Linked DNA regions of Homo sapiens. The protein of the gene in region 1 purifies or fractionates together with the protein of each later gene. This does not show direct contact. Each region holds a gene or a part of one and is shown in the gene's direction. Other genes may lie near its edges.

Evidence for each region. Proteins that work in one complex are often made in the same cells at the same time.
Region 2: the proteins of FCF1 (region 1) and TRIM29 purify together in Homo sapiens (affinity purification with mass spectrometry; 2 studies listed by BioGRID and IntAct, with this or other methods). This does not show direct contact.
Region 3: the proteins of FCF1 (region 1) and LGALS7B purify together in Homo sapiens (affinity purification with mass spectrometry, with the first as the bait; 2 studies listed by BioGRID). This does not show direct contact.
Region 4: the proteins of FCF1 (region 1) and SERPINB2 purify together in Homo sapiens (affinity purification with mass spectrometry; 2 studies listed by BioGRID and IntAct, with this or other methods). This does not show direct contact.

What each region holds. Positions count from the first base shown.
Region 1 is NC_000014.9:74,729,168-74,734,586, forward strand, and holds part of FCF1 (rRNA-processing protein FCF1 homolog), read left to right. Parts: intron 1-3,563; coding exon 3,564-3,651; intron 3,652-4,908; coding exon 4,909-5,003; intron 5,004-5,419. UniProt on the Homo sapiens protein: Part of the small subunit (SSU) processome, first precursor of the small eukaryotic ribosomal subunit.
Region 2 is NC_000011.10:120,131,614-120,135,113, reverse strand, and holds part of TRIM29 (tripartite motif-containing protein 29), read left to right. Parts: intron 1-3,500.
Region 3 is NC_000019.10:38,787,887-38,791,999, forward strand, and holds LGALS7B (galectin-7), read left to right. Parts: upstream 1-1,313; 5' UTR 1,314-1,340; coding exon 1,341-1,346; intron 1,347-1,729; coding exon 1,730-1,818; intron 1,819-2,802; coding exon 2,803-3,004; intron 3,005-3,693; coding exon 3,694-3,807; 3' UTR 3,808-3,868; downstream 3,869-4,113. UniProt on the Homo sapiens protein: Could be involved in cell-cell and/or cell-matrix interactions necessary for normal growth control. Pro-apoptotic protein that functions intracellularly upstream of JNK activation and cytochrome c release.
Region 4 is NC_000018.10:63,897,705-63,901,046, forward strand, and holds part of SERPINB2 (plasminogen activator inhibitor 2), read left to right. Parts: intron 1-22; coding exon 23-140; intron 141-3,342. UniProt on the Homo sapiens protein: Inhibits urokinase-type plasminogen activator. The monocyte derived PAI-2 is distinct from the endothelial cell-derived PAI-1.

The sequences.
Region 1 (5,419 bases):
GAAGGAATGGTACCAGTTCCTCCTTGTACCTGTGGTAGAATTCGGCTGTGAATCCATCTGGTCCTGGACTCTTTTTGGTTGGTAAGCTATTGATTATTGCCACAATTTCAGCTCCTGTTATTGGTCTATTCAGAGATTCAACTTCTTCCTGGTTTAGTCTTGGGAGAGTGTATGTGTCGAGGAATTTATCCATTTCTTCTAGATTTTCTAGTTTATTTGCGTAGAGGTGTTTGTAGTATTCTCTGATGGTAGTTTGTATTTCTGTGGGATCGGTGATGATATCCCCTTTATCATTTTTTATTGCGTCTATTTGATTCTTCTGTCTTTTTTTCTTTATTAGTCTTGGTAGCGGTTTATCAGTTTTGTTGATCGTTTCAAAAAACCAGCTCCTGGATTCATTAATTTTTTGAAGGGTTTTTTGTGTCTCTATTTCCTTCAGTCCTGCTCTGATTTTAGTTATTTCTTGACTTCTGCTAGCTTTTGAATGCGTTTGCTCTTGTTTTTCTAGTTCTTTTAATTGTGATGTTAGGGTGTCAATTTTCGATCTTTCCTGCTTTCTCTTGTGGGCATTTAGTGCTATAAATTTCCCTCTACACACTGCTTTGAATGCGTCCCAGAGATTCTGGTATGTTGTGTCTTTGTTCTCGTTGGTTTCAAAGAACATATTTATTTCTGCCTTCATTTCGTTATGTACCCAGTAGTCATTCAGGAGCAGGTTGTTCAGTTTCCATGTAGTTGTGCGGTTTTGAGTGAGATTCTTAATCCTGAGTTCTAGTTTGATTGCACTGTGGTCTGAGAGACAGTTTGTTATAATTTCTGTTCTTTTATATTTGCTGAGGAGAGCTTTACTTCCAAGTATGTGGTCAATTTTGGAATAGGTGTGGTGTGGTGCTGAAAAAAATGTATATTCTGTTGATTTGGGGTGGAGAGTTCTGTAGATGTCTATGAAAAAGCAAGAACATATGTGGAGTATACCATTTATCTAAAGTCTAAAAACATGCAAACCAATACTGCATTGTTTATAGATATGTGTATATGCTTTTTTTTTTTTTTTTTTTTTTTAAAGACAGATTCTCACTCTGTCGCCCAGGCTGGAGTGCAGTGATGCTATCACAGCTCACTGCAGCCTTGACCTCTCCGGCTCAAGTGATCCTCCTGCTTTGGCCTCCCAAGTAGCTGGGACTACAGGTGCATACCACTATGCATGTCTGATTATTTTTTTTCTTTTGCATGGCTAATTTTAAAAAAAAATTTTTTTGGTAGAGACTGGGCATGGTGGTTCACGTCTGTAATCCTGGCACTTAGGAAGGCTGTGGCGGGCAGATCACCTGAGGCTAGGAGTTCAAGACCAGTCTGACCAATGTGGTGAAACCTCATCTCTGCTAAAAATACAAAAATTAGCTGGGGGTGGTGGCAGGCACCTATAATCCCAGCTACTAGGGATGCTGAGGCAGGAGAATTGCTTGAGGCTGGGAGGCAGAGGCTGCAATGAGCCAAGATCATGCCACTGCATCCAGCCTAGGCAACAGAGCAAGACTCCATCTCAAAAAGGCTGGGTGCAGTGGCTAACGCCTGTAATCCTAGCACTTTGGGAGGCTGAGGTAGGCAGATCATCTGAGGTCGGGAGTTCTAGACCAGCCTGGCTAACATGGTGAAACCCCGTCTCTCCTAAAAATACAAAATTAGCTGGGCATGGTGGCGCATGCCTGTAATCCCAGCTACTCAGGAGGCTGAAGCAGGAGAATCGCTTGAACCCGGGAGCAGAGGTTGCAGTGAGCTGGGATTGTGCCAATGCACTCCAGTCTGGGTGACAGAATGAGACCCCATCTCCAAAAAAAAAAAAAATTTAGTAGAGATAGGGTCTCACTATGTTGCCCAGCTGGTCTCAAACTCCTGGCCTCAAGTGATCTTCCTGCTTTGGCCTCCTAAAGTGCTGGGATTGTAGTCATGATCCTCCACACCCAGCCTGGTAATTTTTAAAACAATAAAAATAAAGAATGAGAGGGGAAAAAATAGAGGCACCAAGTGGAAACACTAAGTTTGGCTGTCAAGAGATGCAGAAATGGGGTGTTAGCTGGAGGGGGGTATAGGTAAAAAGATTTTTTTGTCTTAAGGCAGAGAATATATGACAGCATGTTAGTATGTTTCTAGGAAAGAGCTAGTAGAGAGGAGACAAGTGATTTCAGGAGTAAAGAGATAACTGAAAGAGCATAGTCCTAGACTGTTGCCCACCTAGTTTGTCAGCAACCAGTCCATCCTCCCTCTAGTGTATCCTCCCCAGCACAGCCTGCTTAGTTTTTCCAAGACAGAGCTTTGTTCTTATCACTTTGTCCCCCAGAAATCTTTAATGACTCCTCATTACCTGTGTCATCACACTCGTCAGCCTGGCATTGGAGACTCTTTCTAGCCCCATTTCATTCTTCTCTCCACAAACACTCTGCCCCCAGCCAGAAAGATGTGTTTACTCTTCCCCAAATACCAAGAAACCATTTTACAGTTGGCTGGTGTCCTATTTGGTACCCTCACATTGCTTGGCACATTCTTTAATCTTATTTCACCCCATGTCATTTTTTTCTAAATATTCCCAACCCACATTGACCTAGCGCTGAACTACTGCAATATGGAGGAGTATTTGTGTTGCACTTGGTACATATGTGCTGTCTTGTATTTTTCTTCATTTCAGTGACTCATCATCACTGTTAATAGAAAGAGCATGGCTCTCAGAATCACACAGAGTTGGGGTTTTTCTTTTTCAAATATGTATGAAAATAATACATGTTTGAGTGTTTTATGGCAAACAATACAAGCATATACATATAGTAAAAGGTAAAAGTCTGCCTCTACATTCATACTTTGTCCATTCTCATACCCCAAGAGTGACAACTGACAAAGGTTAATATATTTTTTCAGACCTTTTTCTGTGCAAATGCAAATCTAAATAAAGAGTATTGGAAAGAAGGATTTGTATTTTATTAATTAAATCATATTATATATATATATATGCATATGCCCTGCTTTGTTTATTCAACAGTTTAGTGTAGGTCCTTCCACATTGGTACGTACAGCTCTACCTCACTTTTTATTAATAGGATAAGGGCACCAAAATGGGTTTAACTTTTACCTTTCTAAAGGATATTTTTATTTTCTTCACTTACTATAAACTGTGTTGAGTGATCATCCTTCTGCCTATATTCTTGTTCATTGTGTTTAAGACAACTTCTTAAAAGTGAAATGGTTAGGTTAAAATGGGTTTTGTTTTTGAATCCTGGCTTTTCCCAGCTGTATAGCTTTGAATGAAGTAATTTAATCTCTCTAAGCCTACTTCCTCATCTGTAGAATAGATATATAATAACTCAAAGTTTTGTAATGATTAAATGACCCAAAGCACACTAGCTGTCAGCCTTCATTCCCTGCCCCGTGAATTGTCTTTCCAGTTAGAGGATAAAGTTCAGGAGGAGAACAGTGCCTTAAAATCTCTGCATAGATCATGTTACTTTTATTGCATTAATTAAGACTCAGAAAGTTATCCAGCTGATTGAATGTTTTCTTTAATCCACCTACAGGATTGCCAAGGATCCAAGATTTGAACGATTACCATGTACACACAAAGGAACCTATGCAGATGACTGCTTAGTACAGAGAGTAACTCAGGTATTATCAGTTCATAACTGTTTACTTTGTGCTTAAAAAAAAAAAATGTAAACTATTATCTCCTGAATGTTCATGGTCAGTAAAACATCTAGGAATATACATTATGGTTAAATTAAAAAAAAATTGCATAGCATTCCTTCATAAGAAGCATAGGTGTCTTCATTTACTTGAGAAAGTGGATTGAAAATGTACACTCTAACCATAATGGAAAGAGCACAGGCTTGGGGAGGAGACATGGGTTTCACGTCTCAGCACCTGCATTTACTGGCTGTGTGATTTGGGACATTTAACTGATTCTTTATCTCACAAATCTCTGTAAAATGATTTTAAGTGAGTTAATGTAGAACCCATTTATTTTTGATGTAGGAATTTTGTTCCTCTTCACGATGCCTAATCCAAAAGTGCTTCTTAGTTAAATCTGAGAGTCTCCCAAGATGCTGTTTCACACATACCCTAGAATAAGTAGGTTTTTAATTCCTTCATTAAGCACCACAAGGACTTCTGCTACTGAGTGCTTTTATAAGGGCCTCTCTGCTGATGATAATCTTCATCTGCTCTGCTGACCACAGAGCCATCCTTTTAGCCACTTCACCCCATGGGGCGGGTGGGTGGGGCCAGTATTTCCCACAGCACAGCTGACACCACTCTGCCACTTTTTATAAAACTCAGTAGGAGAGTCAGACGTGACAGATGTGAAGCTTCCTATAAAATAGCTTTCACCTGACAGCTAAATATTACTGCTTTTATAACTGCTAGGCTCTAGTTTCAGGCCCTGAATATCCTACTTAGGCTTCCTGTTTCGGGGATAGCTTACCTCTAACATCAGTAGGCCCAGAGCACACCCAAGCCCCAAGATCTAGGGAAAGGAGGGAGCTATGGCCTCCAAATTAAGGCACTTTTTATCTCCATGGAGTTCCTCGGAGCATTTTCCCAAAACTAAAGAATTGTCTGCCCCAAGTGTGAAAGTCCCTTTCATTTATGAGCAGAAAACAGTTTGCAGCTTGTGAAAAGTTTTCTACCTTCTCCTCCTCAAGATTCTAAATGCTGCATTCAGCCCAGGCAACTTGTTTATTTTATATAACAAGATTAGGAGCTCCTAGATCATAGTAGGTACTCAACAAATTGTTATAGCCTGCCCTTCGCTACTTACTGTGAAAATGAACGATTCTCAGACTGGTCAGTCGTTGTGCCATTATCCAGTATTCACTAAGCGTGCTCAGTGACCTCAGTGTGAACATCACTCCATGTCTCTTACAGCATAAGTGTTACATTGTGGCCACAGTTGACCGGGACCTGAAAAGAAGAATCCGTAAGATTCCTGGAGTTCCTATCATGTACATTTCTAACCATAGGTGAGAAATTTCCCTTGGAGAAGGGAATAGAAATATATAATTGATATCAATTGAAAATGAGGATAAGTGATAAGGTTATAAAGGATTTGAAAGAAATTATTGTATCAAATGTTTACATAGTTATATTTGAAGAAATGAGACAAAGCAAGAGCAAGAGCAAAAGAGAGAGATAGGATTTAAGGAATGAGGCAAACATTTAAATTGTTAGAGTAAGATTACTGGAAGAAATAGACGTATTGTTTTAAATAAAAGCAGTAATTTAAATCAAGCTAATCTTTTTGGCCAGAAATACCTGTTTTGAAAGATTTTTTTTTATTAACACTTCATCTGAGAAATGGAAAGCTTATTTAAAAAAAAAAAAAGCTGTTATCCTTCTTGGCTATTTTTTGTCAGTACTCAGACTTATTTTCCAGCTT
Region 2 (3,500 bases), on another chromosome or scaffold:
GCAGCCCTATGTGGATGTGCCAGGAGCTCAGAGTTCAGAGTTCGGGTTCTGGCATGGGGGCCGCTGAGGGACTCACAGTTCTTCCTTGAGGGAGGGCTCATGATGTGGGTCAGGAGGCAGGGCTCATACACACAAACAGGACTGGGGAGCGCCCGTCTAGTTACACAGAGCGGCTAGAAGTTAACGTCAAACCGTAGTAGACAGAATGCCGGGCCAACAGAGTATTAGCCACCCCCTCAGTGTCCTCCCTCACCTTGCAGATAGGGACACAGGCACAGAGGAAGGAAGGGGCCTGTCCAAGGTCCTTGTTTGAGGAGGAAGCCCCCTAAGCCCTCTTCCAGTGTTTGAGAGTGCCTCAGGGAAAGGGCCCCAAGGGGATGGGATTGGGATATGTGTGTTTTAGGAGAAAATGCCTGGTCCTCTAAAGTGACTGTGATGGTGGGAGCTTCAGGTAGCCTCCGTGTGTGTGCACACACATGTGCACCTGCAGCATAGGGCTAGGCGGGGAGAAGTGGAGCCAGGAAGCCAGGAGACTGAGCTGGGCACACGGGCTGTCTCGGCCTGGCTCTGCTGGAATGTCACAGGTGGGGGACATTGGCACAGAGCAGGGTTAGTGGGTAGATGGGCCAAAGTGAATGAGCATGCCAGTCCTGGCATCCTTTTGAGGCATCTCCTGCAGACCCAAACATCAGCCCACGCATAGCTGTTTGCAAGTGGCTTTGTTCAGAACCCGTTCCGCAGGCCAGTGGTGAAGGCCCAGGTGATACAGCCTCAGACCTGCCTCGGTTGGTGGTGTGAGGCTACGATGACACCCAGGGCTGTGGGTGCCTGTCTTCTGGGCCTCAGCTCTACCTACAGACTCTGAGCAGAGTCTCTGTTAGAAAAAGATCGCTTGGTGCGGCAACATGACAGCACCTTCCTCTGGTGGTCCCTGGGTCAGCATGTTTCCAGTGCCACCCCAAATGTCACAATAGGCCTCATACATGTCCTCCTGTCTTCCCCTCTGCCACTGAACACTTCCCAGGCTAGGTTAGGTGGGTGAGATTGAAATGTACACATACATCCCTTTCTGTGTCTTATGGCCCTTCCTTCTGCCTATCTCAAGCTTCAGCAGGCCAGGATGTTAAGACCTCCTGGGTGGACGGCTGGCTGCTCTTGGGGGGCCCTGCACTGTCATGGATCTGGCCTGCTCTGGGGTGGCAGCATGACGAGGCGTGTGTGGAGGTCACTCAGCTAGGAGCATTGCTTTGGAGAGGCTTAGCCTCACACCTCCTCCACTCTCTCAACCCCACCATTTGGTTCAGTTCAGTTCTCTCACCACATCTGTGGCTTTGTTTCTCGTCTCATTCCCAATTCTAACACAAAAGCTGAGCCACTGGCTGCTGGGCATGGGCAGCCGCTGGTCCTTGCTTTTCTGAGCAGCGCTGGTCTGCCCAGGAAAGCTCTTTGGGATTCGGGAAGGGGAGCCAGGCTAAAGGCCAGGGTGCCCTGGAGGGGCTGGGCCCACTTTCCCTGGAGACCTTGGTGACTTTGGGGGAGAATGCTTGCCCTGGGACAGGGTGGGTGAGAAAGGAGGTAGGGGGGCCTCTCTGGGTGCTAAGGGGGAAATAACAAAATAAAAGAAGCTTGGAGACAGGAAGCAGGGGAGCAAAGTGACAGGCAGGCAGGAGGCAACCCAGTGTCTGTGGCACACACCTGAGTGCCAGTGCCGGGCCCAGCATGTCCTACTTGTAGATGAAGAAACAAGGTCAAAGTCGTCAAGAGACTTACACAAGTTACAGCACTCAAGAGTGGCAGAGCTGGGATTCCTCTCCGCTATTTTAAGCCTTTTTGTTCCTGTAGGATTGGAAGGGTCTTCTTGAGATCACCGAGTCCAGTGGCTCCCAAACAGCAATCCCCAGACCAGAATCAGCTGGTGAATTGTTGAAACACAGATTCCCAGGCCTTAGCCCAGGAGGTATTTTAAAGGTCTCCCTAGAGAATTCTAATGTGTAGCTGGGTTGGGAATCAGAGATCTAGTCCAATTTCACCACAAGGAAACCAAGGCCCAGGAAGGGGAGGTTCCCACTGTGCCTGCGTCCCCATCTGCAAGGTGAAGGAGGAGACTGAGGGGGGTGCTAACTCTCTGTGGGCCTGGCATTCTGTCTTCTTCCCCACTCTTGGCTGGAGATGGCCAGGGTGATACCTTCCTTGCCCCATCTCACCCCTCCCCTGACCTGAGGCTGTGAGGAGGCAAAAGGAACAGTAAATCTCAGTCAAACAGACTAACTGATCCTGGGCTGTTTTACGTCCGAGTGGAAATGGGGAAATCTATCCAGCATTTCAGATTCTTATCCAGATAATTACCATTTGTCTGAGAGTACAAATTTGGCAATTAACTGGCTCATTTGGCAAATGTCACAGCCGATGGCCCATGTAGTGAATTCAGGCCAGGGGAAGATCATGGCCAGTCCTCTCCTCCCTGGAGCCAGTGCAGGTACACCTATCCGGGTGGGTGCTCAGGTGTGTCTCCACCTGAAGACCACGTCCAGGTTGAGGCACTGCTAGCTGCTGCACCACCCATCTGCTCTCGGGAAAACCTCTGCTCACCCAAGGCTGAAGGATTTCAAGGTTAGGTGGCCCATGCAGGGCCCGTTCCTGGCATCAGAGAGCAAGAGGCAAACAGACAGGTGTGGGAGAAGGGAACAAAGGAGTCATTTAGGGACAGGCCTGGGCAGGGAGGAATGAAGCGGAGAGTAGGAAGTCAGGAGGGAGGTGTGGGCAGGGCGGGACTGTGGGGATCAGAGGCCCTGTCAGCCATCAGGGCCTTCAACCACTTTCTGAGGGAAGAGGGAGAGAGGGAGAGAGAAAGCTGGGGCCTCAGAGGACAATGGGGAGGGTGCTGGGAGGGAAGCGGGGGCAAAAGGAAAGAGATGGAACTGCCAAAGTGCCATCTGCAAGGTGAAGGGAGCATGGGAGGGCTTAGGCCAGCAGGAGTGAAGGGGAAGGACGATGCCACAGAAGACACACAGGACAGCCTAGTGCCACCACCTCTAGGTGCGCCTCTTGAAGCACAGAATAGGATCTGAGTCCTGTTGTTGAAGCTTGGCCTTACCGCTTTCCAACTGTGAGAACTCAGGCAAGCTGTGTAATCTTTATAGGCCTCGGTTTTCACACCTGTGAAGTCGGAGGGATAATGCCACTTACCTCCACAGGAGGCTTTTGCTGGTTAAAGGAGAAAAGTCCTGGCACATACTAGATGCTCAGTAATCAACACTGCCTTCCTTCCCTCTCCTAGTGTTGAAGGAGAGCCCAGCGACTTTTAAACCTTCCCATGTTATATTACTTCCTATACAGGAAAAATTGCCAAGAGCTGAACAGACACAAGGTGCATCCCTAGCTGTCACCCCAAATGCTCCTCCCCCGACAGGGTAGGACTCATCCCAGAGGTGAGAAAGGACCATTCTAGCAGCACAGAGTTCCCAGTCCATGGGAACTCCAAGAGCCTGCTGTGTCCTGCC
Region 3 (4,113 bases), on another chromosome or scaffold:
GCCAATTTTTTGTATTTTCTATAGAGAAGGGGTTTCACCATGTTGGCCAGGCTGGTCTTGAACTCCTGACCTCAAGTGATCCACCTACCTTGGCCTCCCAAAGTGCTGGGATTACAGGCGTGAGCTACCATGCCCAGCCAGGAGTGGTTTCTGTTCAGCTCCCACACCATCCCTGCCTTTCAGAAACAGATTTCAGTCCTGCCCGCCCCCCCCCCCCCCCCCGCCTCCCCCAGTCTACTTCCCCAACCCTGGATTCTCTTCTAGAGTCTTGGGCCCAAGCGGGCTATATTGGGGCTGGCGGGAGGGTCCCCACCTTGCTCTGCTTTTGATCTAGGTGGTGATGGAATGCTAGGCCACCCACCACCCTAAAACCCACCTCATCCTGACCTGCAAAATTGGTGGGAAGATGGTAACAGTCCTGGAAGGAGGAACAAGAGAGACTTGAAGGAGAGAAGTGGGACAGGAATACGCGGTAGACAGTTATAGACAGAGACAAACAGAGCCAGACAGCCAGCCCCAGAGACAGAACCCACAGGAGAGGCACGCCCAGAGGTGAGGAAAGGCAGAGGTTGGGGCAATGGGTCCTGCCCGGCTTGTGGAAAATCACTTCCCATCCCAGCCTCAGCCTCCTTCTCTGTACAATGGGGGTGACCCATGCTTCTCTCTGTTGGAATGGTGGGGTCCCAATCAGTGATTTCCTGCATATCCTGGGCAGCCCAAGGGCCTGGGAAATGACAAGCGTAGTCCTAGTGGATCCCCTCCTTTCACCCCTCCTGACTGAGGACTTCCCATGAACCCGGCACACTCCAGGACCCAGGGGTGCAGCACTGAGCCAACCAGGCCGCCCTCCGACCCTGTGAAGTCCCCCTGTCTGGCACTATCGTCGTTGTTGTGGCTGCTGTTCCACTGGAGACTTAGAAGCAGGGATTTCAGCGCAGACATTTCCAGTCTAGGCAGGAGGTTCTCAGCTGGAGAGAAGGGTCTAGAGTTCCCGCTGGGCTTGGCTTCTCAGGACCCAACATGTCTGTGGATAAAATGAGCATGAGAGACTCTCCTGTGTGCCAGGCAGTGGGAAGACAGGGGTGGAGGGGCGGTGGCTCTTATTATCAGCTCCTAGGAGAGGGGCAGTGCACCCGGGCTCTGGGTGATGGGGGGATCAGGGCCCCCAAGAAGAGGCGCCACTCCCACTTCGCCAGGCTTGCCCCAGGGCCAGGGTCCGTGCCAGGTGTGGGTGGTGGGTGGGAAGGGGTGGGGTGAGTCATCAGGGCCAGCCCCGCCCTGCTTTTATTTAAGGTCCCCAGCAGGCCCCACCACCACGGCTGCCCAACCCGGTCCCAGCCATGTCCGTGAGTGCTCCAGGGGCCCGGGGCGGGGCCAAGCAGGGAGGGGGCTGGGGGCTCCTCTTTCAAAGGAGCAAGTGGGCAGTGAGTGTGCCACGGACTGGCCTGGGCTGTGGCCTCCGGGTAACCCCCATCCCGACTGTCCCCTCTACCTCTTTGTGGCTTCCTCTGGGGCCCTCTTTGAGGATCTTTCTGTTTGTCTTTGTTGCTCTCCCCATCTGTTTCCCTGTCTGTTTCTGGTCTCTTTCCTGCCTCTCCGCCACCCTTTCCTCTTCCACTGATTTCTGCCAGTCTCAGCCCTGGTCGGCTCCTCTGAGGGGTGACCCACCTTCTGCCTCCCTCCTTCGGTCTCACCGGCTCACAGTGGCCCCTGCACCCCACTCTTGCAGAACGTCCCCCACAAGTCCTCACTGCCCGAGGGCATCCGCCCTGGCACGGTGCTGAGAATTCGCGGCTTGGTTCCTCCCAATGCCAGCAGGTGAGGCCCCAGGCCCTAGGGGTAAAGGGTACAGGTCTCAGGATCAGCTGACTCCCAATTTTTGCAGTCCAGAAGTAGGGGCCCGAGGCCACCTGTATCCACCAGGCTAGGAGTCCGAGGCCATTTCTGACCTCAAATCTGATGTATTCGTATTTGCCCCCGTGCCTTTGTGGCTGGGGTCCCTAAGTTTCCCTAAGCATTTGAGGTCCCTGGGTAATCTCAGGGTTCCTAGATATAGTCCTATGACTTCCATGTCTGAGTCCCAGGGAACTCTGGAAATACTCCAAGTCCTGGAGACACCCTGGACCCTGGGAGTCCTTGCCAAGCCATCCTTTGACTTCCTGGCTAAGGAACTTCGGGCCTTCTGGATTCTGAGGTACCCTGGAAATACTGGGGTTCCTGGTATTATTCTTTGTCCTGTAGAAGCTGAGGGTTCCCTGAGCATCAGGAGCACCCTGGCTATCACCCAGACCTCCTGGGCAGCTCCCAGGCTCTTTGGAAATGAGGGCACCCTGCCCTAAGCGTAGTGAGTTTGGTCTGGGTAGGTTTCTGCCAAGGGCCTCATGATATTTTGGCTGCCTTGGGAATCTAAGCTCCCTGGTCATTAGTCGCCCACCTCTCCTTCTGCGGTGTGTGCCTGTCTTCAGGTCCCTGTTAATTTGGGGGTACTCTGGGAATGGGGAGTGCCAGCCCATAAGACCTTCACTTTGGTCTGGGCGGTTTATGTTTTGTTTGTTCTTTCGTTTTTTTGTAAGGTGGGGTCTCGCTATGTTGCCCAGGCTGGTCTTTAACTTCCGGGCCCAAGCGATCCTCCCTTCTCCACCTCCCAGAGTGCTGGGATTACAGGGTGAGCCACTGCACCCAGCCAACATTTCATTTACTTATTCATTCAAAGTAAATTGTAGACATCGGTATTCCTCACCCTCAACATTTCTTGGTCTGGGTGGTTTCTGAGCCCTGACGGCCACCATCCCCCTCTTCCAGGTTCCATGTAAACCTGCTGTGCGGGGAGGAGCAGGGCTCCGATGCCGCCCTGCATTTCAACCCCCGGCTGGACACGTCGGAGGTGGTCTTCAACAGCAAGGAGCAAGGCTCCTGGGGCCGCGAGGAGCGCGGGCCGGGCGTTCCTTTCCAGCGCGGGCAGCCCTTCGAGGTGCTCATCATCGCGTCAGACGACGGCTTCAAGGTGCGTCTCTGCGACAGGGGCGTGGACGCCAAGACTTAGGTCCCTGGAGCAGAGGGTTGGGCAAAGCCAGGCTATTGGTGGAAGGCAGGGAGGTTCGGGGCGGGGTGAGGGGGGTAGGGAAGTCGTGGCCAAGGCGGAGAAGGGTGTCCTTCGACCCTCTCTCTCGCCTAAACAACTCCCACTTGGGTCCGAGGGACAGAGAGACAGCAGGGTCAGGACGAGGCGAGCACCAGCCAAGTGTCCAAGGGGTGGGCGTCCTAGCGGGAAGGCGTGGCCCAGACTCGCCATCCCAGACCCTACTCCCAGTTCATTCCTTCCTGAGGTCCGGGGTTTGAGGCATGGGGAGGGATGGGTTGGAAACAGCGCCCAGGAACTCGTCCTAGCAAGGATTGGCGGGTGGGAGTGGCGGCAGATCCTCCACCACCCACAGCTTACGCGAATTCACCTCCCTCCTCTGCGCTTTAATAGCGGGTAATGGTCGCTGAAATGAGAATATCCATTACCAGCACTAAAAAAGCCGCTTTTTACTGTGCCACACAGTCAACTCGTTTGATCCTCACGCAAGAGTTAGAATGAACAATAGCCCCATTTTCCCAGTGAGGAAACTGAGGCCCAGAGGGGATGAGTGATTTCCCCAGGGCCACCCAGCACGGGCCTCCGGAATCCTCACCACCGACCCTCCCCTGCAGGCCGTGGTTGGGGACGCCCAGTACCACCACTTCCGCCACCGCCTGCCGCTGGCGCGCGTGCGCCTGGTGGAGGTGGGCGGGGACGTGCAGCTGGACTCCGTGAGGATCTTCTGAGCAGAAGCCCAGGCGGGCCCGGGGCCTTGGCTGGCAAATAAAGCGTTAGCCCGCAGCGCGACTGTGTCTGTGTCCCATTCACTGAGATGAGCAAACTGAGACCCAGAGAGGCCAAGATACTGGCTCCGGGCCACACAGCGAATCCGAGGCGGAGGCGGGCTCTGAGCCTGCCTGTGCTTAGGACACTTTCTGTCTGCGAAGGCGTGAGGGTCGCGATCTGGGAAGGAGTGGGTGTGGGGCGTGCCCTGACGCAGCATTTGTGCAAAGCAAGCCAGCTGGGAATGCGGTCGGGCGGACCTGCTGGCG
Region 4 (3,342 bases), on another chromosome or scaffold:
TTGTCATTTTCTTGCTTTAAAGGAATATATTCGACTCTGTCAGAAATATTACTCCTCAGAACCCCAGGCAGTAGACTTCCTAGAATGTGCAGAAGAAGCTAGAAAAAAGATTAATTCCTGGGTCAAGACTCAAACCAAAGGTAAATCCAAGAAAATATTTTATTTACTTCTTTCCAGTTAGAAAACTCTGATCTATCTTTTTCCATCCATGAACTTAGTTAGCCCTCACCCCTTTACAATTTGTCCAACTGCAGTTACTTTGGTGGATGTGAATTTATTCCTGATTAGCTCAGTGGTGTTTTAACTGAGAAGAAATAATTGAGGCCTACTAATAGAAGACATATGTTTAGTACTTAAATATTTGATTTTGGATATTGCTTGAGGATAGAATATGAAAGGAGGCAGAAGCTTTCAAAATAGGAAATATCAGCATTGAAATAATTGTGAGTCTATGCCCACTGTGGACAAAAAGAAAACAAGGCTTGACCCTGAGCTTAGTAAATGGTGTGAGCTATAAAGAATACAGGCAGTGGAGGAGGGAAGAATCATAAAATTATTTTCACTCTTTCTTCTCTTTCACCATTCAAAGCCAATCCATTGTCAAGTTTTTTTGGTCTCTGCTTCATCCCTCCTTGATTATCTAAGTCACGTCTACCATTTTAACTCATGCTTTTAATTGTTTCACAGGCTCCTGCCTCCCTCTGTATATTTTACAATGAATAAATTATTTAATTGAATCATTTATTCATTGTAATTTAGTTTATTAAGTCATTTATTCATTGAATTCATTCATTCATTAAGTTCTATTAAGTTCATTCACTTAGTCAACAAATATTTATCCACCACACACCATATTCCAGAAACTATATGTGGAGATAAAGATAAAAATGGTAAATCCTGCCACCATAGAGCCTATAGAGGAGGGATTCAGTCATGTTGGCAATTGCTATAGAGTAGTAGTCAGTGCTTTCATTGAGAAGTACAGGTGCTATGTGGGAGTACACAGGAAAGGCATCTGACTGGATTTAAAAATGATTAAATTGTAATTGGGAAGACAGGCTGGAGCTGGCCAGGTGGAGGGTGCATGCCTGGGGGGAGATTTCCAGACAGAGTGCACAGAATATGCAAAGGTCCAGAGGTAACCCTAAGGAGAAGAATAGAGTCTGGTCTGACTGCAGTGTGGAGGGCCAAGGGAAGGAGGTGAAATTAAAGAGGTGATGCAGTACACTTATTATGCTATTCCCACACTAAAAACTGTCAGTGACCTCCTACTGTCCTCAGGAGAAGGTCTCATTCTTTACCTTGACTTCTGAGTTCTCAGTAATCCAGTTGACTGTGCTTGGCTACCACTGGCCCTTGGAGCTCCTTAAACACTCATTGCTGCCTCTAGACTTTGTTTCTGAGGATGCCTCAACTACAGGATTTAAGTTGCAGTTTAAATTGCAGCCAAAGTCTTACTCTTTCCTGGAAGTGACTCCCAATTACTTCCTGATCTTTTCTTCTTCTCATCTCCTCATCTGCTTTTTCAGCTTCACAAGTCACATTAGTGTTAGCCATATATGGCCTTAAACAATTATGGAACTGATTTTTGTTAGTTTGTTTTGCTTTTCCTCTCAGGCTCTAATTATTTTTGGGTAGGTCCAGTATGTCACACTTATCCTATGCCCCCACAAAAATTTGCACAGTTTTTTGCTGACAGTGAAAATCCTTCATTCTTCTGAATTTCCAGGTAGAGTTGTAGGCCTTAAGTAAACAATTGCTGAATAATAACATATAAATGTATTTCTAAGAAACAGAGATGATTATGAATTCAGAATTGTGTAAGTATTTCATTCATTTATGATCTGTTAGGATTGAAAATGTCCTAAGAGAGCTCCTATCCATCTTACCAATTTGTGGTTGGAGCATCCTGTTCCCAGGGGATTAGCCGGCTCCCCTAAGATCCCACTGGTAGCGGTAAAGCCAGGGTTGCTTCTTCTTCTGATCCTTAGTCTAACTCCAGAATTCCTCAATCGGATGTTTAAAAATTTTATAACTTATTTTTTTAAGGATTTTCATTTAACTCTTATGTTTAAGACATTGTTTCAAGAAATAGTTTGGTGTCTTGCTTTATTAATTACCACAATGGAAAATGCACATAAACTAAGTGCTATGGGATTTCAAAAAATATATATTTATTTGTTTATCTGAAAATAATTGATTTCCTTTTAGTTCTTCATTTTCATTGTGGATTTGTGAAATACTGTTCTAAAATATTGACAGACCACTGACACAAAGGAAGCAGAGAAAGATGATTTAAATCAAAAGTTCAAGTAAAAATGGAGAGCAAAATTAAAGAGACACATGGAAGTTTTGCCTTCTTTAAAGAATGGCATGAATTGTTTTTCTCTTTAGACATTGTGCTAAATGGCTGTAAGTCAATCAGTTATTTTGCCAAAATGCCAAGCAGCTATTTTGGCAGATTGTTTTACCAGCTTTTGTAAGAATTGGAGAGAATTGTCTGTTTCATCATGCTATGATCAAATACTAGTTTTATCATATACATCACAACATTACTATACCCCAATACTAACCAAAAATTTTAATAGCTTGGGAAATATATTGAATGTATATATTAAATGAATACATTGAAGATGAAACTGATGCAAGGCAGGCAAGCTCCAAAGTGGGGCTTAGCCTTCAAGGGTTCTTGGCTTCACCCAGGAAAGTATTCAAGGGTGAGCTGGAGGTAGGGTAGAAGAAAACAGCTTTATTGAAGTGGCAGTATTACAGCTCCATGATTCCTCCTGCAGAGAAGGGCTACCCCAGGCACTGTGCTGAGAGGCACAGCTCAGGGCAGTTTGGGGGTCATATTTATACCTACTTTTAATTACATGTAGATTAAGGGGCAGTTTACGCAGAAATTTCTAGGGAACGGGGAATAACTTTTGGGTCATCAGGTCATTGCCACAGAAAGAGGTGGTAACTCCAAGGTGTTGCCATCACAATGGTAAACTGACATGGTACACTGCTTCCATCCTGTCCCTGGTCCCCATTTTAGCTAGCCCTCAATTTGGCCTGGTGTCTAAAACCTGCCTCCAGAGTCAGGTCCCACCTCCTACTTCAAAACCACATTGACCTATTAATTTGTTAAGAGTCTTGTATTTGTCAGTAGTTTTGACTGTGGAGGCAGAATTTTTACAAGCTTACCAGCATTGTAACGTTGGGAAGACTGCTAACCTGGTGGTGTCCTTTTGCATAAAATGACACTAATAAAACCCACCTAATAGAGTATCAAAATAATATATTTTGATGCTTGGAATACTGCAGAGCGAGTACTAACTATAAACAAACTGCTTCTTA